4 separate regions of the Homo sapiens genome follow, and regions 2, 3 and 4 are each reported to be linked to region 1. Evidence: microRNA targets listed by miRTarBase, many of them from high-throughput screens and not tested one by one. Region 1 holds a microRNA gene; each other region holds the end of a gene's coding sequence.

Evidence for each region. Region 1 holds the annotated microRNA hsa-miR-6747-3p (UCCUGCCUUCCUCUGCACCAG, at 4,200-4,220, opposite strand). A microRNA usually pairs through its seed, bases 2 to 8, with sites in the 3' UTR of a target mRNA and lowers its output. Matches are read on the target gene's strand: a 7mer-m8 pairs with bases 2 to 8, a 7mer-A1 pairs with bases 2 to 7 and ends in A, and an 8mer does both.
Region 2: miRTarBase lists NFAM1 as a target of hsa-miR-6747-3p. Seed matches in the 3' UTR shown: 7mer-m8 at 1,311-1,317, 7mer-m8 at 1,598-1,604, 7mer-m8 at 2,317-2,323, 7mer-m8 at 3,417-3,423, 8mer at 4,070-4,077 and 7mer-m8 at 4,320-4,326.
Region 3: the mRNA of SSH2 is a reported target of hsa-miR-6747-3p. Seed matches in the 3' UTR shown: 7mer-m8 at 1,686-1,692 and 7mer-A1 at 3,448-3,454.
Region 4: the mRNA of ALDOA is a reported target of hsa-miR-6747-3p. The part of its 3' UTR that is shown has no 7-base or 8-base seed match.

The regions. Positions count from the first base shown.
Region 1 is chr11:62,562,812-62,570,630 of GRCh38, forward strand. MIR6747 (microRNA 6747) reads right to left here and starts at 4,260; the gene lies at 4,200-4,260. It overlaps EEF1G (eukaryotic translation elongation factor 1 gamma), which reads right to left. Exons shown (of 10, transcript NM_001404.5): 6 at 4,588-4,717; 7 at 3,995-4,199.
Region 2 is chr22:42,378,422-42,386,240 of GRCh38, reverse strand. It overlaps NFAM1 (NFAT activating protein with ITAM motif 1), which reads left to right. Exons shown (of 6, transcript NM_145912.8): 6 at 1,021-5,834. The coding sequence ends at 1,080. Among named protein-coding and RNA genes, the nearest start is that of LINC01315, 13 kb to the right of the region's middle.
Region 3 is chr17:29,624,181-29,631,999 of GRCh38, reverse strand. SSH2 (slingshot protein phosphatase 2) reads left to right here. Exons shown (of 16, transcript NM_001282129.2): 16 at 1-6,062. The coding sequence ends at 1,159. Among named protein-coding and RNA genes, the nearest start is that of CORO6, 5.2 kb to the right of the region's middle. RefSeq lists an enhancer at 7,288-7,819.
Region 4 is chr16:30,068,666-30,076,484 of GRCh38, reverse strand. ALDOA (aldolase, fructose-bisphosphate A) reads right to left here. Exons shown (of 10, transcript NM_001243177.4): 5 at 7,785-7,819; 6 at 7,507-7,667; 7 at 7,096-7,179; 8 at 6,812-6,986; 9 at 6,456-6,655; 10 at 6,071-6,368. The coding sequence ends at 6,273. It overlaps PPP4C (protein phosphatase 4 catalytic subunit), which reads right to left and starts at 491. Exons shown (of 9, transcript NM_002720.3): 1 at 391-491; 2 at 10-170. The coding sequence starts at 107. It overlaps LOC112694756 (uncharaterized LOC112694756), which reads right to left. Exons shown (of 14, transcript NM_001365304.2): 9 at 7,785-7,819; 10 at 7,507-7,667; 11 at 7,096-7,179; 12 at 6,812-6,986; 13 at 6,456-6,655; 14 at 6,071-6,368. RefSeq lists a silencer at 78-217 and an enhancer at 1,590-1,769.

The DNA of each region.
Region 1 (7,819 bases):
TTGATTTTTCAAAGATGTAGCCATGACATATGCAGTTTTGTGCTTATACTTTGTTGTTACTGGACATCCTATCCATGCTGTTAAGAATTCTTTCAGCCTGGGAAATATAGCGAGACACTGTCTCTACAAAAAAATTTAAAAATTAGCTGGGAGCTGGGCACCATGGCTCACGCCTGTAATCCCAGCTACTCAGAAGGCTGAGGCAAGAGAATTGCTTGAGTCCGGGAGGCAGAGGTTGCAGTGAGCCGAGATCACACCACTGCACTCCAGCCTGGGAGAAGAGCAAGACCCTGTCAAAAAAACAAAACAATCCTTTTTTTTTTATTTTTCCTTGAGACGGAGTCTAGCTCTGTTGCCCAGGCTGCAGTGCAGTGGTGCAATCTCGGCTCACTGCAAGCTCCGCCTCCTGGGTTCACGCCATTCTCCTGCCTCAGCCTCCTGAGTAGCTGGGACTACAGGCGCCTGCTACCGCCCCCGGCTAATTTTTTGTACTTTTTGTATTTTTAGTAGAGACGGTATTTTTACCGTGTTAGCCAGGATGGTTTCAATCTCCTGACCTCGTGATCCACCCGCCTCAGCCTCCCAAAGTGCTGGGATCACAGGCGTGAGCCACCGCGCCCAGCCTAAAACAAAACAATTTTTTGCACTAGCAGTCCCAGCTACTCAAGAGGCTGAGGTAGAAGGACCACCTGAGATCAGGAGTTGGACACCGGACTAAGCAACATAGCAAGACCCTACCTCAAAAACAGAATTCTTTGCAAACATTTTAATGGCCAAACAATCTTCTAATGCAGGATTGTGCCATAAATCTACTAAACATTGAATATTAAACTGAATGTTTAGTTGGTTCTATTGTTCATAGCATAAATATTGCCATGAGTATTCCAATTTCACTCAATCCTTATAACCCATGAGTTATCAACTGTTACCCTGACCCTCCCCTCTCTTTACAGATGAGACCAAGTAGAATGACCTGTCCAAGATTACACTGTAGCAAAGCAGAGGATCTGTCCTTTAACCCTAGGTCCCAGGTTCCTTTCCAAATGCATAAGAGACCTCATCTGAGGAGCCTTAAAACCTCAACCACACCAAAACTGGGGCTGGGAATTTTTTCACACCCTCCTGAACTGTTCAAGCTATTTGTTTTGAGACAGGGTCTTGCTCAGTCACCCAAGTGCAGGGGCACGATCATGGCTCACTGCAGCCTCAACCTGCTGGACTCAAGTGACCCTCTCACCTCAGCCTGCCAAGTAGTATGAGCCACTGCAGTTGACCTAGCTGGGTCTTAAAAGAACTAGAATTAAAATCTGGACATTAATAGTCTTGGTCTTTTAGGATATCACTTTTATGACATTAAAAATGTTGGGGGAGCCAGGGGCGGTGGCTCACGCCTGTAATCCCAGCATTTTGGGAGGCCAAGGCAGGCGGATTGCCTGAGGTCAGGAGTTTGAGACCAGCCTGACCAACATGGTGAAACCCCATCTCTACTAAAAATACAAAAATTAGCCAGGCATGGTGGCACGCACCTGCAATCCCCAGCTACTCGGGAGGCTGAGGCAGGAGAATTGCTTCAACCCAGGAGGCGGAGACTGCAGTAAGCCGAGATCACACCACTGCACTTCAACCTGGGCAACAGAGTGAGACTCTGTCTCACAAAAAAAAAAAAAAAGGCCGGGAGCAGTGGCTCATATCTGTAATCCCAGCACTTTGGGAGGCGGAGACGGGCGGATCACGAGGTCAGGAGTTCGAGACCAGCCTGCCCAGCATGGTGAAACCCTGTCTCTGCTAAAAATACAAAAAATTAGCTGGGCATGGTGGTGCGTGCCTGTAGTCCCAGCTACTCAAGAGGCTGAAGCAGAACTGCTTGAACCCGGCAGGTGGAGGTTGCAGTGAGCCAAGATTGCACCACTACATCCCAGCCTGGGCGACAGAGCCAGACTCCATCTCAAAAAAAAAAAAAAAAAAAAAAAAGGGGGCCAGGCACGGTAGCTCACACCTGTAATCCCACCACTTTGAGAGGCCAAGGTGGGCGGATCACGAGGTCAAGAGATTGAGACCATCCTAGCTAACACGGTGAAACTCCGTCTCTACTAAAAATACAAAAAATTTGCCAGCCGTGGTGTCACGCGCCTGTCATTGTAGTCCCAGCTACTCGGGAGGCTGAGGCAGGAGAATCGCTTGAACTGGGGAGGCGGAGGTTGCAGTGAGCTGAGATCACACCACTGCACTCCAGCCTGGGTGACAGAGTGAGACTCTGTCTCCAAACAAACAAACCAAAAAAAAACAAAAAACACAAAAAGGAGCCAGGTACAGTGGCTCACACCTGTAATTCCAGCACTTTGAGAGGCCAAGGATCACTTGAGCCCAGGAGTTTGTGACCAGCCTGGGCAACATAGTGAGACCTAGTCTCTACAAATAATAAAAAATTAGCTGGGTGTGGTGGTGTGTGCCTTTGTCCCAGCTACTCCAGAGGCTGAGGTGGGAGGATCGCTTGAGTACAGGAGGTCAAGACTGCAGTGAGCCGTGATCACGCTACTGCACTCCAGATTGGACAACAAAGTAAAACCCTGTTTCCAAAAAAAAAAACCTTGGGGAAAGCATTTCTGGCAGCCCTGTAGGGCATCATGGTAACCCAATAAATAGACATTAATAAACATTCCCAAAACCATGTTAAGAAAATGTAAAGTTTATTAAATAAAGATTTTAAGTTTACTACTGCCTCATTTATTTCCTGCCCAGAGTACTGACCTACTATATGTGAAAATCTCTAGCTAATAATTAACAACGTCTGAGTTACAACACAATATGTAATTTGGGTTAATTATCATGACCTATTTACACACACCAAAAATCCTGCTCACTCTTGACCTGCACCTGTGCTAAATTCAAGGCAAATCACTAGTTCAAAAAATACATCTTTAAAGAGTGCCTGTGTCTGGATGGAGCCTTCCTGGTCTTGTACAAAATACCCGGGAGTAAGAACTTTCAGCTATACCCCAAGTTGCTCCCATCTATTAGTGCAATGCTTGTAATTCACAATTCTATGCACAGCTACTGTGTCCCTACCAGTGGGTGCTCCTTTAGGCTGGTTCACCCGGTATCCAAGCCATTACAAGATGGGAGAGGGTGAAATGTAAACCCTAGCAGACCAAGCAGTAAAAAGATGAACGGCTTTGGAAATGACAGGGTGAGTGGGAGGAAAAAGTACAGAGAAAGAGGAGTTCCAAAGCAAAGTGACCACAGAATATATATTTCTCAAACTGCTTGAACTCCCAATAAAATGACTTGGAGCAGTGATGGAAGAAAGACTCCATCCCAGAGAACTGGGCAAGCACTCAGCGTCCTACATTTTTCATGCCAAAAATCTCGTTTTTACTATATTATTTCTTCCAAGAAGCCCTACCTTTAACTGAAAAAGGGATACAGAGGACACCTACTTTCTTCTACTTGGGGACTTTACTCGGTTGTGGAACAATGAACTAGACAGACACTACTTAGCTATGATCTTCATCCTTTTTCTTAGTGAGCAATTTTTGTACAGTCTGATTCAGCAAAACAGAAAACAAAACAATTCAAAGGACCCTGCTCTGGCATCCACTATCTCCGCACAGCCGGGCGCGTGGCGCACCGCAAGGCTCTCTGCACTTTCTTCCTCCCCACGCCTCTCCCTGTATTTGTTCTCAGAGCTCTCAAATGGTCAAATGAGCTTGCTCAAAACCAACTTACCACTATATCAAAATCTGTTCCTGTCTTTGTTGGAATAGGAGTTCAATCTTCCCCAGTACTGGCTGTACTTGAAACTTGCTCTCCACAATCAAAATTTGCCCAATTCCTGATTATCAGCCAGAAAGCTGCTTTATTTGCAACTAAAATATACCTTTAACTTTATATGGACAACCTAAAATTCTGGCTCTAGCTGTGTGTGAGGGGGGACATACAGAGGTGAGAACAGGCCTTCTTTGGTCCCACACCCTCCACCCTCCAATATCCTTACCTCTTGGGCAGGTGAGCGAAGGGGTCCTTGGCCTTGGGCTCAGCAGCCAGCGCCTGCTCACATTCATCCATCTCCTCCTCAGGAGCAGGGGCAGCCGCCTTTTTCTCCTCCTTCCGCTCAGCCTGGGGCTTCTGCTTCTCTTCCCGTGAACCCTTCTCTTTCCGTGGTGTGTCCTTTTTAGGTTGGGTCTCTGCAAACTTTTTAGCTGGTGCAGAGGAAGGCAGGAAAGTGAACGAATGTTCTGCCTCTTTCCACACCCCTCCAAAACCACACAGAGCAAGCAAGGTAACAGAGGAAACTGACGAATGGGACAAGTAAGGAACTTAGGCCCCAGACTGCTCATCAGTTCACTGTGTGTCCTCCAGCAACAACACACTCAGCAACAAATACTTTATATCGCAAATCTATATAGTAATACAAATTAGTCAGGGTATGAGTGTACACGAAACTGCACATAATATTAGCTACCACATTGACACCCTACATTCTGCAGGTCCCCATAACCCAAAAGCAAGACAGGAAATCAAGGGGTTGATGCAGAGCAAACCAGACCCTGATCCTGGCCATATGCCTCCCAGTCTCCTCAGACTCACCATCAAACTGGGCCATCTTCTCACACAGTTTCACTTCGCCCAAGACAGCCCGGAACTGGGGCTGGTTAATGCAGGTGAGGAACCAGCGGTTGGTATTGGGAAAGGCCTGGCGGAAAGAAGGCTCTAGAACCTGCCAGGACATAAGGGTGTAAACAAAGTCAGTGGAAAGGCCCTGAAGAGTTCTGTTCACAGCAAGAGTCCTTGCTCTACCTAAGTCCCAGTGCTCACCTTCTTTTCAAACCCTATAGACAATAGCTTCATACAACATCATCCTTCCCTGGATTACTTCCCATTTCTTCATTTTTTTCAATTTTTTTTTTTTTTGAGACAGAGTCTCACTCTATCGCTCAGGCTGGGGTGCAATGGCGTGATCTCAGCTCACTGCAGCCTCCATCTCCTGGGTTCAAGTGATTCTCGTGCCTCAGCCTCCCATGCCTTAGCCTTCTGAGTAGCTGGGACTACAGGTGCCTGCCACCACACCCAGCTAATTTTTGTACTTTTAGTAGAGATGGGGTTTCGCCCTGTTGGCCAGGCTGTTCTCGAACTCTGACCTCAAGTGATCCGCCCACCTCGGCCTCCCAAACTGCTGGGATCTCCGAGGCGGGCGGATCACGAGGTCAGGAGATCGAGACCATCCTGGCTAACACGGTGAACCCCCATCTCTCCTAAAAATAAAAAAATTAGCTGGGCGTGATGGCGGGCAGCTGTAGTCCCAGCTACTCGGGACGCTAAGGCAGGAGAATGGCGTGAACCCGGGAGGCGGAGCTTGCAGTGAGCGGAGATCGCGGCACTGCATTCCAGCCTGGGTGACAGAGTGACTCTGTCTCAAAAAAAAAAAAATTAGCTGGGCGTGGTGGCACGTGCCTGTAGTCCCAGCTACTCCAGAGGCTGAGGCAGGAGACTCACTTAAACCCAGGAGGTGGAGGTTGCAGTGAACCGAGATCACGCCACTGCACTCCAGCTTGGGTGACAGAGTGAGACTCTGTCTCAAAAAAAAAAAAAAAAAAAAAAAATTTTAATAGAGATGGGGTCTCACTATGTTGCCCAGGCTTATCTTGAACTCGCATGCTCAAGCAATCCTCCTGCCCTGGCCTCCTAAAGTGCTGGGATTACCCGTGAGCCACCACACCTGGCCTCCATTTCTTTTTCTAATCTTTTTTTTCAGTGTAGTCCAGTTTAATGGATGGATGCTTGGGTCCATCCTCCATTTAGGAGTAGGAGTAATAATTGTCTTGCTCCTTTACAAAACTATTTCAGATCTACTGTTTCCAATCTTTTAAATTTCAAACGTCGGCCAGGAGCGGTGGCTCACGCCTATAATCCCAGCACTTTGGGAGGCCGAGGCGGGCAGATAACCTGAGGTCAGGAGTTCGAGACCAGCCTGGCAAACATGGTGAAACCCCGCCTCTCCTAAAAATACAAAAATCAGCCAGGCATGGTTGCACATGCCCGTAATCCCAGCTACTCAGGAGGCTGAGGCAAGAGAATCACTTGAACCCGGGAGGCAGAAGTTGCAGTGAGCCGAGATCGCGCCATCGCACTCCAGCCTGGGGGACAAGAGCGAGACTTCGTCTCAAAAAAAAAAAAAGATTGAGACCCACAGAGGGCTATCGAGGACTTTTTTGCCAAATAAAATCTAAACACTATAGGTATTTACTATCTATATTGGCCATACTATACACACACGCACACACACACACACACCCCCCACACCCACCCATCCATCAAACTTCAGAAAGTAAAGAACATTCAAAGAAAATATTCAAACGCATTTAGAATAATGGACAGTCCTGGCTGGGTGTGGTGGCTCACCCCCGCAATCCCAGCACTTGGGAGGCCGAGGCGGGTGGATCACCTGAGGTCCTCAGGAGATCAAGACCAGTCTGACCAACATGGCAAAACCCCATCTCTGCTAAAAATACAAAATTAGACGGGTTTGGTGGCGCATGCCTGTAATCCCAGCTACTTGGGAGGCTGAGGCAGGAGAATCGCTTGAACCTGGGAGGTGGAGGTTGCAATGAGCCAAGATCGTGCCACTGCACTCCAGCCTGGGTGACAGAGCAAGACTCTGTCAAAATAAATACATAAATAAATAAATAATGGACAGTCCTTCAAATTAAACTTAGTGTCTGGTGTATTAAGCATGGTCAAAGAAAAATAAGAATAAACAGCTTCAGGTAGAACTGTTGTCAGTTTTCAGTTTGCAAAGCTTCAGGTAGAACTGTTGTCATTTTTTAGTTTGCAAAGACCAGAAGAGGAAAAAAAATCTTGTCATGGAAACAGAACACAGCAGTCAGAGTGCTGGTTCCACAGTACTTGGGTTCAAATTCTACTCTACCACTTAGTAGATTCACTCACTAAGATGATCCCCATGAGGCCCCTGGCACAGGGTCTGGCATGCAGTAAGTGTTTTTTCTTTTGCTATGATCACATTACTATTCTGGACCAGCATCAGTCCAAGAGCTTTTATTTGGAAACCAGTGACTTGTCATTCTTTTTTGACCCAATAACCTTGACAGTGATTATTACTACCCTGATTTTATAGATTGCAAAGAGTAAAAAACAGGACTAAAGGAATTCACCCGCATATAACCCCTTACCTACATTGGTAAACAATGAAGCCAAGGCTTGAACCTGTATCTGTCTCCAAAAGAGCTTAAAGAGCTTTTTTTTTTTTTTTGAGATGGAGTCTCGCTCTTGTCCCCCAGGCTGGAGCACAGTAGCTGGATCTTGGCTCACTGCTACCTCCACCTCCTGGGTTCAAGCCATTCTCCTGCCTCAGCCTCCCAAGTAGCTGGGATTACAGGCTCCTACCACCACGCCCGGCTAATTTTCGTATTTTTAATAGAGACAGGGTTTCGCCATGCTGGCCAGGATGGTCTCGAACTCCTGACCTCAAGTGATCCACCCGCCTAGGCCTCCCAAAGTGCTGGGATTATAGGTGTTAGACACAGTGCCTGGCCTGCCTCCAAAAAGATCTTAATGCTGAAGCTACCATCATCACCTCTGTCTTCACAACTAAGAATAACCAATCTTCCCAGGAAATATGGCAACAAACTAAACATCTTAGCTGCCAAACAGAAACTAAAGGCAAGACATTACCCAGCTTCTTAAGAGAATGGAAAGCAAGTGATGGTACTCAGTCCTGGGATTCCTGGCTGTTTTTTGTTTGTTTTGACACGAAGTCTCACTCTCACCCAGGCTGGAGTGCAGTGGGGCGATCGCTGCTCAC
Region 2 (7,819 bases), not on the chromosome of region 1:
CCCTGTGCCCAGCTAATTTTTTGTGTTTTTAGTACAGACAGGTTTTCACCATGTTGGCCAGGCTGGTCTCGAACTCCTGACCTCATGATTCACCCACCTCAGCCTCCCAAAGTGCTGGGATTAAAGGTGTGAGGCACCGCGCCCGGCCCATACTTTCTCTCTTAAACCTGTTTGCTCATCTGTAAAGTGGATGAGCAGTGTTTTCCTGCAATACCAACTGCCTCTGAATTCAAATGTGTTCCAAGCTGAATAACATCTGCACCAGAGCTTCCAGCACCGTCAAGCGTGAGGCGTTGTTCAGCCAGAACAGGAGCCCACAGGCCTCTTGGAACATCTGTCAGGGAGTGCGGGCGCCTGGCACTTGGCCTTCTCTGGCTCGGGCTGGCACTATTTGTTAAATCGCCTGTTCTCAAAGCCCTTTCTATACTCAGCCCTCAACTAGACCCTGAGTGAAAGCAGGGACATCTCCGGCAGTGCCCACCCTGTGCCAGGCCCTGGGGTGCTGGACAGGAGAACTAGGCATGTCCCTACCCTCTGGGAGCCATAGTCTGCAGGAATAGGTCGCTGACCCCATGGACACACAGAGGCATTTGTAGCCCTGTTGTGAGGGGTGTTCTTCTGGGAGGGACCAGCCAGGGTGGGGAGGGAGGGAGGGGGTCCCTGGGACCCTATGATGAGCCCGCAGGCAGAGTGAGTAGGGGGCAGTCATGGAACAGGTGTGTCTGTGGGAGGAGGCGCATCCCACACATAGGGCAGAAGGCAGAGGGCAGAGCTGTGGGGGAAGCTCTGAGGCTGGAAGGGCAGGCCCATGTGGCTGGAGGGCAATGGGCAGGGGTGGGGGCAGCATGGTGGGGGAAGAGGCTGGGGAGGTGGGCTTGGAGACAGAGGGCAGGCCCCCCATCAAAGCTACACAGGAAGTGATCTGTTGCCCTCTGGCTAAAACTAAATTAGTGCAAGTTCATTCTTAATGGTCATTCTCTCTCTTTCTCTCCTTCCCTCCCTTTCTTCTTTTCTATCCAGGAGAGACCGCATAGATTCGAAGATGATGGCGAACTTAACCTGGTCTATGAAAATCTCTAGGATGGGCTCCACCGCTCATAGAGCTTGCCCTGGGTCAGAGGACCGGGGCAGCCCCTGCCACCAAAGGACTTGATCTGAGTTGGGAGTAAGGCCCCCAGGGACACCCCATCATTTCACCCTCACATTCAAGGCCCTTCCTGTCTTGGCCGGCCCCACTGCCCCCCCATTCTATGCCCCAACCACCAAGGCTTTCCCATCTTGGGGCCTTTGCCCAGGCTGTTCCTTCTGCCAGGCAGGCCCTTCCTCCCTTGGCCCAACCAGCAAAGCGCCCCTCAGTCTTCAAGGGCTTTCCTGGATGCCACCCTTGCCCAGAGCCCTGCTCACTGCCTCATGCTGACAGAGCAGCATGCTCTCTTGGCACCAGCCTGCACCTCAGCCAGTAGGGCAGCCTCTGAGCTGAGGGAGGACCCTGCAGGGGCGCCTAGCAGTGCTGTGTGGGGAGCCGAGGTATGGAGGAGCTGGGGAGCAGCTATGCAAATCCCTACCTACCCAGCTGGGCCAGAGGCACGAGGCAGCCAGGCAGGGTGGGAGCAGGGGCTGGCGTGGGAGGTCTGGGGGACAGACAAGGATGATGGACCCCTCAGAGGCAAGACTAGGATCAGGGACAGATCTGGAGGCCCAGGACATGGCTGAGAGGTGGTCAGCAGGCTGGGGGCATGGAGCAGAGAGGGCTTGGGTACAAGCTGGAGAGGAAGGAGATTCTGGCATGTTGGGGTGAGGGCAGAGGGACAGATGAGGGGAGGAGGGTGCTGGCTAAACAGGAACTGAATGAATGGCCTGAAGCTCCCTCTCCCAAGGGTTCCCACTCCCATTGGCCTGGCCCTGTACGTGCACTCTGTCATCTCCTTGGTCACCCTCTGCTCCAGGCCTTCTCCACCACAGGACCTCAGCTGTCCCTCCTTCTACCCAAGGTGGAGTCCCCCAAAGTCCCTTCTGTCTGGCCTATCCTGTGCCCACCACCTGTGGCTTCATCCAGCCCTCCTCCTCTATCTTTATCTGCCATAGGCCGCAGCCCTGGCCCCCTGTGGATTGAGGTCCCAAGTGGTCCAGCTGTGGGGTTTGGTGCTGGGACCCTCAATGGCAGCCGGAAGGTCCCTCTGAGGCAGAAGCTCAAGCCCCATGGGGACAGTGGCTCCCCAGTGCCTGGCCCTGAGCCATTTCTGCTGTTTCAGGTGCCCACATCACCCTCATTTCCTCCTCGCAGTAGCCCTGCACCGTGGCCAGAAACCCATCCACAGGCAGGCAGTGGCTGGGGTCCGGGTGCCCCGGGCTGTTGGGCTCTGCTTCCTCCCTCTGCTCCCCCATGTCTCCCTGAGTTCTCCCACCTTTGCTCATTTGTAAAATGGGCAGGTCAATCTTCCCACCCCACCGTGTGGGCTGCCCCAACCCCAAATGTGCCCAGGGAGGGGGGGGAACCCAAGGCACAGGCCCCGCCCCTGCCCCCAAGCAGCACTGGGCTACTGGCTCACAGAAGCACCTTTGGTTCTGCAGGTCATGCCCCTCCCTGCAGGGAAGGGAAAGCTGGTGGTAGAGGCTGGGCACAGACTGACGTCCAGAAGAAGTCCCTTGGCCCTGCTAGGGTGGCACCAGACTTCTCTGGTCCCACAGGACAGCCAGTGGCCTCCCAACTTGGTTCTGGGCCCCCGCCTGCAAGCACACATGGCAAGGAGGGCTTTAGCAGGCTCACATAACCGAGTGGCAAGGCCCCTGCTCCCAGAGGCTGGATTTGAATGAACTCCGGGCCTGTTTGGGGAGGTGAAGCTGCCAGGTGTGCACAGGGGCCTCCCAGGCTCCTGGCTCCACCAGCCAAGGAGGTGGGGGCAAGGGTCAGGGCAATGGGGGACAATGCCGCTCAGGGTGCAGTGAGCTCCCCTGGGAAAACCGAAGCCAGCAAGACCAGGAGAGGGCCACCTCACTGGGCCTGCCTCCCCCACCTCCTGGGCCTCTCTGACCTCAGCTCCTAGACCCTGGACCCTTGGCTGGGACTCAGCATTTTCCAGTCTTTTTCAGGGGTAGACAGGGGAGCCTGGGTTAAACTTTACCACTGTGCCCTGGCCCAGGCATCACCAACACGGCCTCCCTGCAGCTGCCCTGCCACCGACAGACCCCGATTAAACCCACACCTGGCCTTGGCCTCCCCTGCTCTATACCTTGCATGGTTTTTGCCTCACTTGGAATAAAATTCCAACTCCTCCCTGTGGCGTAGGAGGTTCTTGGGGGCTGACCCATCACCCCTCTGGTGGACAGAGACATTGCCAGCGTGGTGGTCGTCTGTGCTTGGTTCAGGGCAAGGCTGGGAGGCAGTGGGTGCTGAGGTCTTCAGTGAGCAAGGAGAGAGGCAGGGAGGAGGAGGAGGAGGAGGAGAGCACAGCATGAAAGGACGGGACCCTAAAGGGCTTTGGCCCAAGGGAGGGTGGGGCAAGAATGTTCTGAGACTTCTGTGGGCAGCAAAGAGGACTGAGCACCTGTTCTCCAGCCCCCAGGACTGAGAGCCTGCAGAGACAAGCTGGCACAGGGCGAGGGGTGGCAGGGAACTTCAGGGTGGGAGGTGCATGGGGCAGGCGGGAGGAGGAAGAACAGAGAGGGGACAGAGAGGGTATGAATGGGAGCTCCTGGGGTGCAGGCTTGCTTTCCACTATGAATGGGTGGAGGAGGGAAGAGAAGAAAATTGCTTTTGAGACCCACCCAGGCTGGGTGGCCTCAGGGCCTCCCTTGAATCCCTGCTCCACCTCCCACAGCCTTGTGGACTTGGGCAAGTCACTGGCCACCTGAGCCTCAGTTTGCAGTGACAGTCAAGACAGCTCAGGCCAGGCGTAGTGGCTTATGCCTGTAATCCCAGCATGTTGGGAGGCCGAGGCGGGTGGATCACTTGAGGCCAGGAGTTTGAGACCAGCCTGGCCAACGTGGTGAAACCCCGTCTCTACTAAAAATACAAAAATTAGCCTGGTGTGGTGGCACGCACCTGTAGTCCCAGCTACTCGAGAGGCTAAGGCAGGAGAATCTCTTGAACCTGGGAGACAGAGGTTGCAGTGAGCCGAAGTGGCACCACTGCACACCAGCCTGGGCTACAGAGCACGCTCTGTCCAAATAAACAAACAAACAAACACTACTCAGTGTCTCAGAAAGGACAGAAGGGGACTCCCTGGCTCAGGCAGAAGCTCAGTGGGTGTGCATTTCCTTCAAGACTCGTCCTTCAGAAGGAATAGGCTTCTGGGGCAGTACAGAGGAGTCTAAGTGAGAGGCAGGCCTCCCTGGGAGCTGGGCCCAGGCTCTCTGCAGCCATGCCTTTAAGGAGTGCCTACGGGGTAGCACGATCAGATGGACAGGCCAGGGCTGCCCAGAGCTGGGGGTGGGAGCAAGGTAAGCAGAGAGGTGAGGGAAGGAGGGTGCTGGCTTAGCAGGAGCTGAATGAATGGGCCTGGAGGGGAAAAGCTAAGGGGGATGGGGTGGCTTGAGTGGAGTAGGTGAGGCCTAGGTGAAGGGGAGCTGTGGACCTTCCAGGACGGACGGATGTGAGCAGTCCTGAGTGGGGACTGGAGTTAGGGTGGGGAAGGGAAGCCCCAGGCAGCCCCTGCAGGCCCCTGCCCCTGGGCCCTACCGCAGCAGGGCAGCCCTGTCTCTGGGTCTCAGCTGATGCTTCCCTCTGCCCACTGGCCCCTGACCTGGTGGGATTTCCCACCATCTCTCCCGGCCCAGCCTGCCCTGCCCTCCTAGGTCTTCCCAACCTCCCCTCTGCAGAAACATCTCAGCCACGTCTGGCACCCCCAGGCATCCCTGCCTGCCTCTAGGAAGTTGACCCCTTCAATGGGTTTCAGCCTCCAACCCCACCCCCGCTTGACTCCTGCTCTGTCAGCACTTGCTTGAGAAAATCATCCTGGGAAACCAGCTTCTGGGAGCAGGGGCCTTGCCACTCGGTTCTGCGAGCCTGCTGAAGCCCTCCTTGCCACGTGTGCTTGCAGGCGGGGGCCCAGAACTAAGCTAGGAGGCCACTGGCTGTCCTGTGGGACCAGGGAAGTCTGGTGCCACCCTAGCAGAGGGCCCATGGACTTCTTCTGGAGGTCAGTCTGTGCCCAGCCTCTACCACCAGTCCAGAACTTGCAGTGGGTGCGGTAAACGGTGGCCCCTCCTCAGCAAACATTTCCAGGGGATTCTGGCAGCAGAGTTTCCATGGGAACATGTGCTGGTTCTGCGCTGAACCCGGTGTGGCTGGGGTTCCCTTCACAGCCAATATTGCAGGAACTGAGCCTGGTGGCCTCGGCCAGGGTAGGCAGTGCTCTTTGGCCACCCAGTGTCACAAACCTGAACTCAAGTTACAGGCAAAACCTGCTTTTCCTTTTTCTTTCTCTCTCTCTCTCTTTTTTTTTTTGTTAAAGCACATTCTAATGTAAAGTCCATGCTCCATTCTAAAGATGCCTCTGGGATTTCAGGGATGGATTTTTATGTAGTTCAATAGTTTTCTTGGCAGACAGCTTATGCAGGAGAGGTGGGCCGTTGGCTCAGTCCAGCCAGGCTGAGTGGCGTCACTCCATTCCTTGCAATGCCAGGGGATGTCATTTGTCCACCTGAGGGGGCTTCCCCAGTCTCCCTTCCCTGACCTGTGGTCAGAATGATGGCCTCAGCCTTGACTGAGCGCGGGTCAGGCCAGACTCTCTGAACTTGGTGTTGGCGTGTGTTTTGTGTGTGTCTGGAGGTGACATATGTGGGTGACAGAAGCATATGTTACAGTGAAACATTAAAACTACAGCAAAGTGAAACTCCTCTGATGCACCTGCCACCTCCCAGCCTCCATACCCGTCCCCTCCCCAGTAGTAACCAATCGGGTCATTTGGGAGTGTTTTCTTCGTCGCTGCTTTTATGGCATCTAGGTGTCTACCTGTGAACATGTAAAATGTGGAGCGCCGTGCGGGCTTCCGAACAGCCGCGATGCATTCATTTTGTAGGTGTTGTTTGCACTTGCTTTGTTGATGCAGCCCCACGTGGTGGGATCTGCCGGAGACAGCACACAGGAGCTGCCAGACTCCAATTACAGCAAAGGATCCTGCAGGACAGATGGATCCTAATTTAATCAGGCCCCCTATCGAAGGCCTTTTCAGTTGTTTATGATTTTTCAACCTCACATAAGGGGCTGCAGGGAACATCCTTGTACACACACACATCTGCAAAACTTTCCCTATGGGAAATGAGGAGGGATTCCTGGGACCCAGTGCATAGAAGTTCACTGTTCTAACAGTCACCACCAAATCGCCAGGCCCCGAGGTTGGACTGGTTTCTATTCCTCGGACTCTTTATCTAGAATATTTCATTTAATCCTGAAAATAGGTCTGTGATGGTGGGCAGGGGTGATCTCCCCATTTTATCGAAGCAGAAGCTACCACTCAGAACAGCTGACTGGCTCCAGGTCACACAGCCCAGGAGGAGCAACGCTGGGCTGCCTCGGCGTGTGTGCAGTCCTGCTGTCCCCAAGGGCATGTGTGCAGTCCTGCTGTCCCCAAGGCCAGGTAGGGGAGGTGATGGGGGAGGCAGAAAGAGCCATGGAGGGATGTGGTGTCCCCAGGAGTAGGGAAGCCCACAGAAGAACAGGTTTCCTTCAGAGATGGGCTGGCAGCCTCACATTCCTCTTATCCAATTTCTCAGAAGTGTGTGTGTGTGTGTGTGTGTGTGTGTGTGTGTGTGAAGTTGGGGGGGTCCTCCTGCCTCCCGGTATTCTATCTCTTTGGGGAAATGGAGGCAGATCCATAGAGCCCCAGGGGTTGGGCCTCCCCAGCAGCCCACGCCCACTGTGAGGCCTGGATCCTGGCAGCCTGTATGCTCTGATCCCAAGTCTACCCTGGAAATTCCCAGGCACAGCATGCCTGGAGGTGTGAGCCGCCTCTTAGAAGCTTTATAATCCCGGATAATGCTGCTGTAATTGGCATTGTTTTTCCATTACAATCCTTTCATTACCTGAAAACTGACTTTGCAAATGGCTATATCTGGAGTGGGTTTTATTTTACCACTTTGAGGACCTTGAGGGGCCGAGGAGTGGGGGCATTTTCTCTGTCTCTCCCTTGACTGCCCCATCCCCATCCCCCAGTGAGTTCCACAGGCCCAAGTGGGCCAGATCCTGGCCTTGGCTCAGGACATAGCCCTGTACCTTGCTGCCCGCCATGGGCTGATCCAGGGATGTCTCTTCTCCCCAGATGCCCCTTCTGTCCCCCTGCCATCAAGTCCACCCATAAGAGCCTCCCTCCAACCCCTCCTCCTCCCAGCCATTCCCAGTCCAAACAAGTCTCACCTGATCTTTCTATAATACATATCTGACCACATGATTCCTCTCTCAAAAGCCTGCCATACCTTATGGTAATGGTCAATTCATTCCAACAAGGGGGCCACCATCATTCAATGGGGAACAGTCTTTTCAACAATTGGTGCTGGGAGAGCCAAACCTCTACATGACCCCTACCTCACACCCTATACCAAAACTCACAGTGGTTTCCACTGTCCATAGGATCGGGGCTCAACCCCTTAGTCTCACATTCAGGGCTCTTACCACTCCTACCACTCCTTCACTTTTTTTTTTCTTTTCTTCTTTCTTTCTTTCTTTTTTTTTTTTTGAGATGGAGTCTCTCTGTGAGGCCCAGGCTGGAGTGCAGTGGTGTGATCTGGGCACACTGCAATCTCCACCTCCTGGGTTCAAGCAATTCTTCTGCCCCAGCCTCCCGAGTAGCTGGGACTACAGGCACGTGCCACCAGGCCCAGC
Region 3 (7,819 bases), not on the chromosome of region 1:
GCAAGGGCTGAGGAAAGTGAACATGGAAAAATCTGTCACTGTGCTCTGCACACTGGATGAAAATCTAAACAGGACTCTGGACCCCAACCAGGTTTCTCTGCACCCCCAAGTGCTACCTCTGCCTCATTCTTCCTCCCCTGAGCACAACAGACCCACTGACCATCCAACCTCCATCCTGAGTAGCCCTGAAGACAGAGGCAGCAGCCTGTCCACAGCCCTGGAGACAGCAGCACCTTTTGTCAGTCATACAACCCATTTACTGTCTGCCAGTTTGGATTACCTGCATCCCCAGACTATGGTTCACCTGGAGGGCTTCACAGAGCAGAGCAGCACTACAGATGAGCCCTCTGCAGAACAGGTTAGCTGGGAAGAAAGTCAGGAGAGCCCTCTCTCCAGTGGCAGTGAGGTGCCATATAAGGACTCCCAGCTAAGTAGCGCAGACCTAAGTTTAATTAGCAAACTTGGTGACAACACTGGGGAGTTACAGGAGAAAATGGACCCATTGCCTGTAGCCTGTCGACTCCCACATAGCTCTAGTAGTGAAAACATAAAGAGTCTCAGCCACAGCCCCGGTGTGGTGAAGGAGCGTGCTAAAGAAATCGAGTCTCGAGTGGTTTTCCAGGCAGGGCTCACCAAACCATCCCAAATGAGGCGCTCAGCTTCTCTCGCCAAATTAGGTTACTTGGACCTCTGTAAAGACTGCTTACCAGAGAGGGAGCCTGCCTCCTGTGAATCCCCTCATCTCAAACTGCTTCAGCCTTTCCTCAGAACAGACTCAGGCATGCACGCGATGGAGGACCAAGAGTCCCTAGAAAACCCAGGTGCCCCCCACAACCCAGAGCCCACCAAGTCTTTTGTAGAACAACTCACAACAACAGAGTGTATTGTGCAGAGCAAGCCAGTGGAGAGGCCCCTTGTGCAGTATGCCAAAGAATTTGGTTCTAGTCAGCAGTATTTGCTCCCCAGGGCAGGACTTGAATTGACTAGTTCTGAAGGAGGCCTTCCCGTGCTACAGACCCAGGGACTGCAGTGTGCATGCCCAGCTCCAGGGCTGGCCGTGGCACCCCGTCAGCAACACGGCAGAACTCACCCCCTTAGGAGACTGAAAAAGGCAAATGACAAAAAACGGACAACCAACCCCTTCTATAATACCATGTGATTCTGAGCCTACACATGTGACTTTCTAGAAGAAATGTTTGTAAAAGGGGCAGGTGTAATATGTAAGGAACATGCACTTTATTGGTTAATTTTATAATATTTTGGTCATTTTACTGTTTCTGGTGCATGCAGGGTTTGGGTGTTTTTCAGTGTGTATGTGTGTGTATATGTAAGGGGAAAGAGAGATTGATCTGGATGGCAAGACCGTTTATCATTTTTTATTTAAAAAAATCAAACCTCAAAAAAGTCATTTTCAGAGAACACCTTTATCAAAGGCAAATTGCTGTTTTTCAGTCAGCTGCCACCTGCTTCTCATTTTGCCCTCTGAGAAAAGGCATGGTTTCTTAATTGAGGGAAGGAAGCAGATTCGGAGGGGTGGAGATAAAGCTGGGGATTGGAGATGTTCCCCTGCCTTTGTGATGATGGTTTGGTTTCCAGACCTGAGGCATCGAATGGGCTAAAGGTCAGCCAGAAGTCAGAGGGCTCTCAGCCTTCATCCAGCCGCAGCCCTTTAGAGTTCCTGAAGGAGGCAGGTTCCGCTTTGCTTTAAAAGAGGGTCTTCCGGTGTTCCAGAGTGTATCGTTACAGTAAGACATGATAATGGCCGGCTCTGCAAATTTATCATATAGTTTTTTTCCCAAGAAAATTATTTTTGAAATTAAAACAGGACCCCAAATGAAATCCAAGTGGTCTTCTGTAGAGGAAAGCATGATAAGAGGAGGAAGACATAAAGTTGGGGGTGGAGAGGCTGCTGCCCAGAAACTGCTGGGTTGGTGGGATCCACACAGATGGGCATCTTGGCTCTCCCTGCCAGAAAAATGTGCTCTGCAGTGTCCTCCCAACTGAAAACAACAGTGACATGTTTGAAAAGCAGCAATCGAAAGTCAGTGTGTTCTTGTAAAATGAATATGTATGTAGGGTTTTAACCCTTCCATTACTTGAATAATTCTTTGGGCCTTCTGAGTTTAATGGCCATATTTTCTTCCAGTTTATTTTCCTTCCCCATGCTGTTGTCCCCATGCTGCCTATTTTTTTAAATTTCATAGATTATATTTGAATTGTTACATATGTTTAACATCCATTGAATGCAACGTTTTATTTTTGGTATTATCACTGTTAACACTTTTTTTTCCTTTTCCTGGAAGGTTTGTCATTTCTCTAAAGTTTGTACACAGTATTTATGTACATAATATTGTCACTGTCTTAGTGTCTTGTTCATGTTGTAGGGTAATTTTGATTTATTCTTTTTAAGAAGGAGTAGAGTTGCAACTGGAAAACACAGACACCAGAAATGAAAGTGTTGGGTGTTGATAGGAATCTGTACAATATGTTGATGGTGGCTGTAGTTGTTTAAATGGAGACTTCCAATCACCAGCTCCTGCCAAATTATGCATTAGTAACTTTTTCCTCAGAGACACCCCTAAAGGCTCCCATTAGGTCACAGCGTGACTGAAAGCTGATTTCTCTGTGAGACTGAAATCCCAGAACATTGTTTGCCAGTATCTCAACCACAGCCAGGAAGTATATGTGAGTTGCCCAGAGTGGAAGCTCCTAGTAGAGGCTGAAGGCCACAGGGGAGGCCTCAGCCAGGGGCAAGTGCCCACAGTGACTCCATTTAGGATGCTGTCGTTTTGCTACTGTTGTGGAGATCCTTAACGCAGCAGCGCCTGTCATAAACAAGCCTCTTGTAGCTTCTTACAGAAAACAGATTTAGTCTAGCATGAAACACCTCTGCATCTCATTGAAACTGAAGAGGCTTGCAGATTTGCTTTCGTTGATGTCCACGTTACTGAGGATTGACTGAGTATAGACTGGAGACAGGTTTTTGGCTTATCACAGCACTGAGGAAAATACAAATGCACAGACTGTCAGCATGATGTCAGAGGCCAGAGTTTGGTGGGGGCAGATGGCAGGGCGACCCAAAAGATGCAGAAAAGGTAGACTGGGGCCACTGGGTCTTAAGAGGAGCTGTGAAGTTGTGTGGAAGCCAAGGCTGGGTCTGACATCCCTGCCAGGAAGCAGGTTGGACAGAAACCACTTGCTAAAAGCGTCTCTATGGTGCAGTGATTATGTGTACCCTGTGCTGTTGCTCAGTAGTCTCCTTGAATGTTCAAGTATCTCATCCACTCAGTTTTGTGATTCCTGGATATTTGTGTGTTGTAAAGTGTTTTGTTAGGTGGTATGAACCAATGTGAGGAGGCTTGAGACAGGGTTATGGATTTCCAGAGCTCTTCCATGTAGAATACCCTGCCTTCTTGAAGCAGTTCCACCACCAATATGATGGGGAAGGGCAGGAACTTATGGCAGGGTGGGGAGAGGGTTTGCCTGGAAGTTAAGAGAGTGGCATCCACTTGTGGTAACCCCTTACGATGATGACATCCCACACACTAAGAGGTACAAGCAGGACCAAAGTTTTGGACTGTTCCCTCTTCTCCCCTCCACTGTGTTTAATGTTCACTCACTGCATTAAATAACAACAAAGATGGGACAAAACCCACTAATACTGTGGGGAAAAAAAATTTTCAAGAGCAGAGGAAAGTCTTTCTGCCTTTTTATAATTACTTTTTTTATCATTTAATTTACCTGCCTAAATAAACATCTTCTACAGAATATCTGTCATTCAACCATGCCAAGGAGTTTGTGCCAGCCTTTTCAGACTCCCAGAATTGGGTGTTCCTGGGTTATTTACATAGCTGAGCAGTGTCCAGGGGAGGTGCGCAGTGAACTGTCAAGGACTTTCCAGACTGTCTTCTCTTCAGACTTTTATAATCTCCAGTGGCATCTTTCCCTTTTCTTTTGTTCATGACCTGACCTGAAGCAGCAGATTTGATAGACTGGCAAAGATGAATAGGAAAAACTTTGACTCTTGCCCAGTGCCTGCCTGCCTCTCTCTCTCTCCTCTCTCTCTCTCTCTTTTTAAACCACCATAGACTCTCACTTATTTTGGAGGAGTGTATGTGCATGTGTACACATATGTACATATATAAAAACAGTTGATGTTTTGGTGTATGGGGTAAAAGCCCCAGGAGCATACAGAACTTGAGCTGAACCTGGTCAGTAGAAAGGGAAACCCCAACCCTTTCTTGATTTTTGGAGACACCCAGGACTAATGGATACTGTAGTAGACATGTAGTACTATAGTACCGTAATATTCATCTCTCCTCATTTTAGTTGCCTTTCAGATTCTAAATGTTTGGGATCATTCCTATCATCTTAGTCTCTTCAGGATCTTTAGTATTTTCCTGGTTCTGAGGAGGCTTGAGACAGGGTTATGGATTTCCTTGTTCTGTGTCTTTATCCCTACTGATAGTTCCTCTTTCTCATTTTGCAAACTACCCAGAGCTCCAAGGACAGCCTGAAGATCTCAGTGCCTCAGGCTCTGAGGTACTCTGCTCACAGGCCCCAGACAGATGCTGTTGGGTAAACTCAAAGCTTCCTATGAGAAGCTTCTGAGATGTAGCAGGTCACAGAAGTGTTCACCTGTTTCATCTGAGGATTTCAGTTCTGAAGTGATCTAGGCATGTTTGGTAAAAATGTTTTTGTGAGAGTTCTTTTTTTAAGAAAGCATTATGCAAAAAGTCACTTTTAAGGGCATTTAAAAATTTTTAAGTAAAGCCATTCTTTGGCTTTTTTGGACTATTTGTGGATACTTTGTTTACATTTTGAATATTAAAATGTGCATCATCTTGTCGGCCATGCAGTCCTGCAGGCATCAGTGCCCTGGCTGTCCTGTGAGTCCTCATGCAGAGCAGGGCCATCATGGTCAGCCCTTGTGAGTAAGTGGGTATACGCTGAAGCTGACTTCCGTCTGTGTCCTGCCCTCCCATCCAGCACTCTCTATGGAAATAGTTGTCATTTCCTCAGTGATGGTGTGTCTTATAGTGATGGTTGTAATGGTGAATGGCTAGTGTCATTTTGTTTAATTTTGTTTTGCTTTTTGATGGTGGATAAGATGAAATTTTAGCTGTTTCAGCATCAATCCAACTTAAAAGCATCTTGGACTTTGTTTTCCCTTCCAAACTAAAAGATCAAGGCATGTATTAGACACAAGCATATTTGCTGCCTCAACTCCTCTGACACCCATATTAGGAAAAGGCCTGCCACCAAAGCAGGAAGCTGCACACTCCTAACCCTTCTCCCAGGGTGTGGGGTCCCTTGACGTCATGAAGAGCTATTGCAAGGTGCTTCTGTACTTTTCCAGCCTGGAAATGGAGGGTGACTGGCCCTGGCTCCTGCTATGAGAAGATAACCAGCCTCATTTTCTCAGTGCCCCAGAGGTCTAGGATAGGATTTCTAAACTGGAATCATCCTTAATCACCTTGAAGATCCCTTAAGAGGCATTTGACTGGTGCTGCCGTCTGTGTCCTCAAAGCAATGCTGGTGGCAGCGTCCTGTGTACACATGCAGAGCTAATACCCAAACTAAAAACTGGGTAACTGGCCCTGAAGTGCTTCCCAATCAGTAAGCCCACAGGGAAATGTTTGATTTTTATGTTCTGTTGGATTTTGGTTTGCTTGGCATATCTAAAGGTGCCTTTACTTTTCTTTTTTTTTTTTTTTCTTTCTGCTTTGTTTTGTAGGACTTGTTCTAACATGGAAAACAAGTCCAGAAGACTCTCCTCTGACTGTTACCTTTGCCCCAAGCCACCCCAAACTTTTATGCTCATGTTTTATTAAAGCAGGTGCTCCCTGGAATCTCTGGGACATTTTTGAGGCATTTGAAGCAGAATATAGAGTGGTCTCATCTCCTTCCTTAATCTTCCTGGTGGTTGGGATGTTCCACTTGTATCATAGATTTTTTTATTACAGATATGCTCCACTGTTTTTAAATGTGAACTTGTGCGCAAATGTGCAGATTCAATGTTCTTGTTACAGATTGAATAAATTTTTATTTTGAAGATGAAACGTGTACTTCATCAGATGCAACAAAGGAGGGAGGTGCTGGAGAAGGTGGGAGAGTCAGAAGAGGAAACACAGTGAACACCAGTAGTTTTCAATGATTGATCCCAGTCATGTCACCCTGAAGAGAGAGCTGAGTCCCCAGAAATAAATGAAACACCTCAGCCCACTGAAAAATGTCTAGAAATGGGACATGAACATCATGAGATATTTAGTGGTGCCATTCATCACATACAAGGCAGGACTACCATCTAGGGAGAGCTCAGTTTCCAGTTCCCAATTGCTAACAAAATTTGAAGTCCCCGCCCCCCTCAAAAAAAAAAATCACTGCCTTGAACTAAAGTCAGCCTGCTTCATTCTGAATCATCCATATCAAGTGGGAGGGGCACAGTGCTGGTCTTTAGCTGGAGTGCATGACGGTGAAGGTAAGGTCTTTCACAAAATATTCTAAGGATCCCTGGGATCCCTGACCAATCTAGATAAGTTCAGTCTTGGTTTTCTAGCCAAAGCAGATGGACCAAATCATGGCTAAGTTGCGAGCTACCTCATCCAGAAAATGGCTTCCTAAAAGATGAAATCCATGGCTGTCTTCTATGGATTGCCGTTCAGAGCTAACAGTTCAAAAGGGAGGCACGAAGCCCAAGTAGCTTCTCTCCCTGATTGGTTCTTCCTGCCTTAACTCTGCCCACTCACAGCTCTGTCAGGCCTTGGCAGCCAGAAGAAGGCTAGAGGGCAGGGCTGAGCTACGCCAGGCCCAAGCAAATATCTGAATCCCTGTACCCAGAAAGCACTGCTCTTCCTAGATGATGGAACTGAAGGGAGCACGCATTGAAGGATTCCTGCTTCCTAGTCCCAAGCGCTTCCCTCTAGAAGGGAGTCTCCTGTTCTCTTTAAAGAGAAGGAGGGTGGGGGTAGGGGAGATGCCACTTCAGAGGAGGCAGCACATAAAATCCCTACTCTGCTAAGGAGTGGTGCAGAGTTGGAAAGAATCTGACCCAATCCTGTTCAGAGAGCTGTAAAAATATGGCGATTGAGCCAGGACTGGAACCAGTTTTTTAATTCATTCCAGGCATCCTTTCCTCTGTGCCACACAGTATAAACTCTCAGTTACGTTTTAGCTCAGCACTTGTGAGATAAAGTGGCACTGTCCTTCAGGGAGAGACAGAAATGCATGCTGCTGAAAAGCAAGAACCAGATGCCAGACCACGTGGGTAAGAATCATAGCTACATCAACTACCAGTTGAGGTTGTGATGGGTAAGCCACCTAACCTCTTTGTGGCTCCATTTCCTCAACTGTTAAATAGGGATAACAACAGTACCCACCTTAGAGGATTGTTTTTTGGTTTTTTGTGCGTGTGTTTTATTTGAGACAGAGTCTCATTCTGTCACCCAGGCTGGAGGGCAGTGGCATGATCTCAGCTCACTGCAACCTCTGCCTCCTAGGTTCAAGCAATTCTCGTGTCTCAGCCTCCTGAGTAGCTGGGATTACAGGTGTGCATCACCACACCTGGCAAATTTTTGTATTTTTAGTAGAGATGGGGTTTTGCCATGTTGGCCAGGCTGGTCTCGAACTCCTGACCTCAGGTGATCCACCTGCCTCAGCCTCCCAAAGTGCTGGGATTACAGGCGTTAGCCACCCGCGACCAGCCTAGAGGATTGTTAAGAGTATGAAATTAATACGTATAAAGCCCTTAGTGCCAGTGCCTAGCACATAAGCATGGGTTATTGTTGTAAAGGAGCAACTGAGTCACTCAGGTATTTTC
Region 4 (7,819 bases), not on the chromosome of region 1:
CGAGCTCACCTGGCCTTAGCGCACAGGGCCTTGACTTCGCTCTCCTTGATGAGCTCGCAGCGACGCAGCTGCTCGATCTGCCGGTCCAGGTCGCTGATCTCCGCCATGGCCCACCCCCGGCGCGGGTCAGAGTCGGGGCCGCCGCCCCCTCCGCACCGCACAGGGGTCTCCTGGGAAAGGCCAAGACGAGCCCGCGGATCAGTGTCCGTCCGGGGCTCGGAGCGGACAACTCGATTCTAGAGCCGGCCCGGCTCCCCCACCCCCGCCTCCCCTCACATCGGCCCCAGGACCCCCCGGCGTCCAACGGCCTGGCCGCACCCCCGCTAACTCCCGTCGAACCCCGCGGTCCCGCGCTAAGGACGGTGACTTAGAGGAGTCTCGCACTATTACCGCCGCTGCGACTCCGGTTCCGGCTCTCCGGCTCCCTGCCTCCCTCTTTCACTCCGCTTTCGACCGCCGCCGCCGCCGCCGCCGCCGCTCCTACTTCCGGCCCCGCCGCGGAAGCAAAGGAGGCCAGTTCCGCCGCGCGCCGGATGTGGCGTCATACACGCTCCTCTCCTTTCGCAGCGACCCCTGCACCACTTCTCCAGCCTGAGATCGGGAAGGAGGTGGAGGAACCCGGTGGCGGCCAGTGGCAGTTTTGTGGGCTCTGCCGCTGGGCGATGTGGAGGCTATTAGAAACCCTAGACCAGTCCCCTCCCATATCATTTCATAAAAATGTTTAAACAACTGTCTTTTCTTTTTTTGAGACGGAGTTTTGCTGTTGCCCAGGCCGGGGTGCAATGGCACGAACTCGGCTCACCGCAACTTCCGCCTCCCGGGTTCCAGCAATTCTCCTGCCTCAGCCTCCTGAGTAGCTGGGATTACAGGCATGCGCTACCACGCTGGGCTAATTTTGTATTTTTAATAGAGACGGGGTTTCTCCATGTTGGTCAGGCTGGTCTCTAACTCCCTACCTCAGGTGATCCGCGCCCCCACCCACCACCACCCTTCGGCCTCCCAAAGTGCTGGGATTACAGGCGTGAGCCACCGCGCCCGGCCACAACTTTCTTTTTTCTAAATTAGAGACAGGGTCTCGCTCTATCGCTCAGGCTGGAGTCGGTGGGGCTATCATAGGTCACTGTGACCTCGAACTCCTGGGCACAAGCTATCTTCCCGCCTCGGGCCTCCCAAAGTGCTGGGATTACAGGCGTGAGCCACCGCGCCCGGCCATCCCCCATTTCAGCTAGGGAAACAAGCCGAGCTGGGGCTAGGCTTTGTAACTTTATTACACTTTTTTTTTTTAACATTACACTTTTTTTTTAATGTTACACATTTTTGTTACTTGTTTTGTCAGCCTTCCCCACCACAGTCCTTGGAGGATCCAACTTTGTCTTTTTAAATATTGCAGCCCCAGTGGTTAGAATAAGGCCTGGCACGGTAGGCATATATAGATACTTGTTAATACTTGTTCAATGGATGAGGGAAGCCAAGTTCAGATCTCTTCCTGTGCCGTCAGAGAAATATTTGCCGTGGACAACTTCAGAAGTTAACAGATTGGAGTCCACTTTTCCCACGCCAAGCCTGTGCCTCAGTCAGCATGACTTCTCTGATTCCAAAATGGCACTCTTGACATTTCTTAGTTGCTTCCGTTTTTCTTTTTGAGACAGAGTCTCACTCTCTCGCTCTGTCGCCCAGGCTGCAGTCCAGTGGCGCCATCTCGGCTCACTGCAAGCTCCGCCTCCCGGGTTCACGCCATTCTCTTGCCTCTGCCTCCTGAATAGCTGGGACTACAGGCGCCCGCCACCAGGCCCGGCTAATTTTTTTGTATTTTTTAGTGGAGACGGGGTTTCACCGTGTTAGCCAGGATGGTCTCGATCTCCTGACCTCATGATCCACCTGCCTCAGCCTCCCAAAGTGCTGTACCACAGGCGTGTACCACCGTGCCCGGCCTCTTTTTTTTTTTTTTTTTTTTTTTTTGAGACGGAGTCTTGCTTTTTCACCCCGACTGGAGTGCAGTGGCACAATCTCGGCTCACTGCAACCTCCGCCTCCCAGGTTCAAGCGATTCTCCTGCCTCAGCCTCCCAAGTAGCTGGGATTACAGGCATGTGCCACGACGCCTGGCTAATTTTTGTATTTTCATTTATTTATTTTTTTAAGACAGAGCCTTCCTTGCTCTTGTCGCCCAGGCGGGAGTGCAGTGGAGCGATTTTGGCAAACCGCAACCTCCGCCTCCTGGGTTCAAGCAATTCTCCTGCCTCAGCCACCTGAGTAGCTGGGATTACAAGCACCCGTCACCACGCCCAGCTAATTTTTGCATTTTTAATAGAGACGGGGTTTCACCATTTTGGTCAGGCTGGTCTCGAACTCCTGACCTCAGGTGATCCACTCTCCTCGGCCTCGGAAAGTGCTGGGATTACCAGCTTGAGCCACCGTGCCTGGCTTCTTAGTTGCTTTCTATTAAGTTTTGTGCCTTTTTTAAGAGGAGGAAACTGGCTCAGAGGGGTTAAATAACTTGTTCATTGCTTGTATAACAGTGGATTGGGGATGTTACACTGAAATTTGAATCCGGGGCTAGGTGTGGTGGCTCAAGCATGTAATCCCAGCACTTTGGGAGGCCGAGGCGAATCACTTAAGCCCAGGAGTTCAAGACCAGGCTGGGCAACAGAGTGAGACCCAGTCTATAAACAAAAAGAATAAGAAACTTGGGCTGGGCGCGGTGGCTGACGCCTGTAATCCCAGCACTTTGGGAGGCTGAGGCGGGCGGATCACGAGATCAGGAGATCGAGACCATCCTGGCTAACATAGTGAAACCCCGTCTCTACTAAAAATACAAAAAAATAGCTGGGCGTGGTGGCGGGCGCCTGTAGTCCCAGCTACTTGGGAGGCTGAGGCAGGAGAATGGCGTGAACCCAGGAGGCAGAGCGTGCAGCGAGCCAAGATTGCGTCACTGGACTCCAGCCTGGGCAACAGAGCGAGACTCTGTCTCAAAAAAAAAAAAGAAAGAAATTTGAACCTGGCTGTGTGTGGTGGCTCACACCTGTAATCCCAGCACTTTGGGCAGCCGAGGCAGGTGGATCACCTGAGGTCAGGAATTCAAGATCAGCCTGACCAACATGGTGAAACCCTGTCTATCCTAAAAAATAAAAAATAATAATAATTAGGTTTGGTGATGCGCTTGTAGTCCCAGCTACCTGGGAGGCTGAGGCAGGAGAATCGCTTGAACCCAGGAGGCGGGGGTTGCAGTGAGCCGAAATTGTGACACCGCACTCCAGCTTGGACAACAGAGTGAAATGCTGTCTCAAAAAAAAAGAAATTTGAACTCAGAAAGTTGTGTCCTCAGGTGTAGTTTTTTTTTCTATCAATTACTCTTTCGGGAACTCAGATTATCATAAAATTAAGAGGTCCAGGCCAGGCATGGTGGCTCACGCCTGTAATCTTAGCACTTTGGGAGGCCAAGGCAGGCGGATTACCTGAGATTGGGGGTTCAAGACCAGCCTGGCCAACATGGTGAAACCCCGTCTCTACTAAAAATACAAAAAATTAGCCGGGTGCAGTAGCGTGCACCTGTAATCCCAGCTACTCTGGAGAGGCTGAGGCAGGATAATCGGTTTGAACCCGGGAGGCAGAGGTTGCAGTGAGCCCAGATCGTGCCACTGCCCTCCGGCCTGGGCTACAGAGCGAGACTTCGTCTCAAAATAAATAAATAAATAAAAGTCCAAATCCCCCAAACTGGTATATGACGTTCTCTGCTTCTCTAGTCTTTTTTATTTTTTTTTTTTTGAGACGGAGTCTCGCTCTGTTGCCCAGGATGGAGTGTGGTGGCACAATCTTGGCTCAGCGCAACCTCCACCTCCTAGATTCAAGCGACTCTTCTTGCCTCAGTCTCCCGAGTAGCTGGGACTACAGGCGCGCGCCACCATGCCCAGCTAATTTTTGTATTATTAGTGGAGACGGGGGTTTCACCACATTGGCTAGGCTGGTCTTGAACTCCTGACCTCGTGATCCGCCGGACTTAGCCTCCCAAAGTGCTAGGATTACAGTTGTGAGCCACCGTGCCCGGCTGAAACTATTGATCTTTAAACAATCTCTCCAGTCTCTGAGACTCTGCACATGTTCCCTTTTGGAATGCCCCCTTTGCCATCTTCTACCGACCTTCAATTTTTATTTGCTTTACTTCAGTGTTTGTTTCCCAGAGTTGAATGAGCTAGGCAGACAAATTAATCCAAAGTTTAGAGGGATAATAGTGATTGGTTTTGTTTTAGATGTAAGCAATAAAAGCAAAATAAGCAGAAAAGGGAAGGACCAAGTTTTATTTTTATTTTTTGGGACGGAGTCTGGCTCTGTTGCCTAGGCTGGAGTGCAGTGGCACAATCTCGGCTCACCATTACCTCTGCCTCCTGGGTTCAAGCAATTCTCCTGCCTCCGCCTCCCAAGTAGTTGAAACTACAGGTGTGCGCCACTATGCCCGGCTAATTTTTGTATTTTTAGTAGACACAAGGTTTCACTATGTTGTCCAGGCTGGTCTCAAACTCCTGACCTCATGATCCGCCCACCTTGGTCTCCCAAAATGATGGGATTATAGGCGTCAGCCACCGCACCCGGCCTAGGACCAAGTTTTTATACTCCTAGAAGGTTCTAGGTAACTCCGTTCTACCTGAATCACTGCAGAGATTCTCTAGGTCCAGAGAGCTGATGTAGTTACTGTACACCCCAGCCTGGGTCATTGGGGAAAGGCTCAAAGTAATGGCATGGCACGCTCATTCTAGCTTCATGGAAAGCAGCAGCTACAGAGACACAGTTCTTCACCTGGAGCCTGAGCTCTACAGCTTAACTTCTGTATCTGCATTACCAAGGGGGTATTGGAAACAATTCAAGGTTTTTATGGGATTCCACAGCCCAAAGGAGACTAAGAAGCCCTCTCTAATTCCATCTCCTGTTAAAATGGGAAAACAGGCCAGGCGCAGTCACGCCTATCATCCCAGCACTTTGGGAGGCTGAGGCAGGCGGATTACCTGAGGTCAGGAGTTCGAGACCAGCCTGGCCAACATGGCGAAACCTCGTCTCTACTAAAAATAAAAAATTAGCCGGGTGTGGTGGCTTGCGCCTGTAATCCCAGCTACTGTGGAGGCTGAGGCAGGAGAATCACTTGAACCCGGGAGGGGGAGGTTGCAGTGAGCAGAGACCGTGCCATTGCACTCCATCCTGGGCAACAAGAGCGAAACTGTCTCAAAAAGAAAAAAAAAAAAAGATGGGAAAACAGAAAACTCAATAGTGTAGATTAAGGAGATAAGCATTGGCTGGGCGCAGTGGCTCACGCCTATCATCTCAGCACTATGGGAGGCTGAGGTGGAGGAACCATGTGAGGTCAGGAGTTGGAGACTAGCCTGGCCAATGTGATGAAACTCCACCTCTACTAAAAAACACAAAGATTAGCCAGGCGATAGTGGCGTGAGCCTGTAATCCCAGCTACTTGGGAGGCTGAGGCAGGACAATCGCTTGAGCCCAGGAGGCAGAGGTTGCAGTGAGCCAAGATCGTGCCACTGTACTCCAGTCTGGGTGACAGAGTGAGATTGTCTCAAAAAAAAAAAAAAAAGAGATATGCATTGATAATCCTTTCCACCAAGAAACAGTTCAATCTTGGGCAAAAGAGCCTTAGGTATAAATTAAAAATAACAGCATCTACTCATATAAAACACCCATTATGTTGCCTGGCTCATGTCACTCATGAGCTAGTTAGTGGGTTTTTGTCACAGGGGTCTTCTGCCCCCCTTGAGTTCTGGACCTAAAAGTGCTGAGGCTGAAGCCTCCTAAGACATGAGCAGTTACAACCATACTCCCCAACTGTTAGCCCTATCTTATGCTGTTAGGTGAAGGGGCAGAGCCTGCAGTGGCTGGAAGAAAATGTCACAAGCTCTCAGCCTTTCTTGAAGCCCTGGCCAAGTATAAAACAGAGCAGGAAGGTCCTTCCACCTTTCACTCCTTTTCTGCCCAGAAAAAACAGAGAACAGGGGCTCTTTCTTCTTCTGGGCTCTGCTACCTCCCCAGGCCCTCCCCTGCATTAGACACCACAAGACACGGACGGCCGACTCCCCCTTAAATAGCTGTTTATTTGGCAGTGTGCCGGAAAGGGTGATGGACTTAGCATTCACAGACGACACCACACACCACTGTCACGAGGGAAGAAAGAGCGCGGGCAAGCCAGCCTGGAGCCCCGAGGAGGCGGCCTCCTCTTCAAGAGTGGGAGGGGGCAGGGCCTGGAGTGTTGGGGGCAGCCTGGGAACACCTCCGCTTAATAGGCGTGGTTAGAGACGAAGAGGGACTCGCTGGCAGCAGCCCCAGCCTGACCGCTCGGAGTGTACTTTCCTTGACAGGCAAGGCTGTTGGCCTAAGCAGGGAGAGGGGTGGAGTGAGAAGGGCTCTTCTCCGAGTCCCATCCACCCAGGCACCCTGCCCACCTCCTGCCTATCCTTACCAGGGCTCGCTTGACATACTCCTCCTGCGCAGCCTTCAGGTTCTCCTTCTTCCCGCCCCAGGCCTTCAGGGCAGAGGCCTGCAGGGCTCGGCCGTAGGAGAAGGTCAGGGCCCAGGGCTTCAGCAGGGGGCACTTGTTAATGGCATTGAGGTTGATGGACGCCTCCTCCTCACTCTGGCCTCCAGACAGGAAGGTGATCCCTGTAGAGCAGGGGTGAGGCGAGAGGGGCTGTGGTCAGAGACCCAGGAAGCTGGCAGGAGCTGGTGGAAGTTGCCATGGAAATCCGTCCAAATGGGCATAGGGTTGTGGGTGGAGCTTATCTACTGCATAGAGATCAAGATGAGTGTGGGCCTCACCAGTGACAGCGGGGGGCACTGTGCGGCGCAGCGCTGTGACGGTCGCCATGGCAATCTCCTCATGAGAAAACTTCTGAGTGCAAGCATGGCCTGGGGTGACCATGTTGGGCTTCAGCAAGGTGCCTTCCAGGTAGATGTGGTGGTCACTCAGAGCCTTGTAGACAGCAGCCAGCACCTGGAGCAGAGCAGGCGCACGGTGGGTAGTGGGGTGGAGGAGAGGATAGGGGTTAGCCCCAGGGTCCCCGGCCAGCCACCTTGCACTGGTCAGGCAGGTAGCCATTTACCTTCTCGGTCACATACTGGCAGCGCTTCAAGTCATGGTCCCCATCAGGGAGGATCTCAGGCTCCACGATGGGCACAATGCCATTCTGCAGGGCGAGGGACAGGGTCACTGTGAGGCCTCCTAACCCAGAGTCCCACCTACATCTCTCCACAGCCACTGGTCAAGACCGTATCTTGATGATGCCAGGGACTCAGGCTTCAAAGCCCTCAGATTACAGGAGACAAGAGCCGCCTCAGATCCACCCACCATCCCTCCTTGGCCCCTCTGCCTTCAACAGCCCTTGAGTGTCCTCCACGGGCCAAAGCTAATGCTTGCTTTTGGGGAGGTAGGCATCATGGCAGGTAATAGGCAAATTAACAACACTGGAACCAAATGAGGTAGGAGGTTGCCTATTGAGGACCTGCAGGCCCACCTGCTGGCAGATACTGGCATAACGGGCCAGAACATTGGCATTTTCCATGATGGCGAGGGCTGAGGGGGTGTGTTCCCCAATCTTCAGCACACAACGCCACTTGGCGAAGTCAGCTCCGTCCTTCTTGTACTGGGCACAGCGCTCAGACAGCCCATCCAACCCTAAGAGAAGAGGAAGGGGTCAGAGCACGGTGGGGAGGGGCATGTGGTTTCCACTCCTCCCAGCACCCAAACCTGCTCTGGTTGGGTTCGTAGGGCAGAGAATCAAACAGTTCTCACCTTGGGTGGTAGTCTCGCCATTTGTCCCTGCCAGG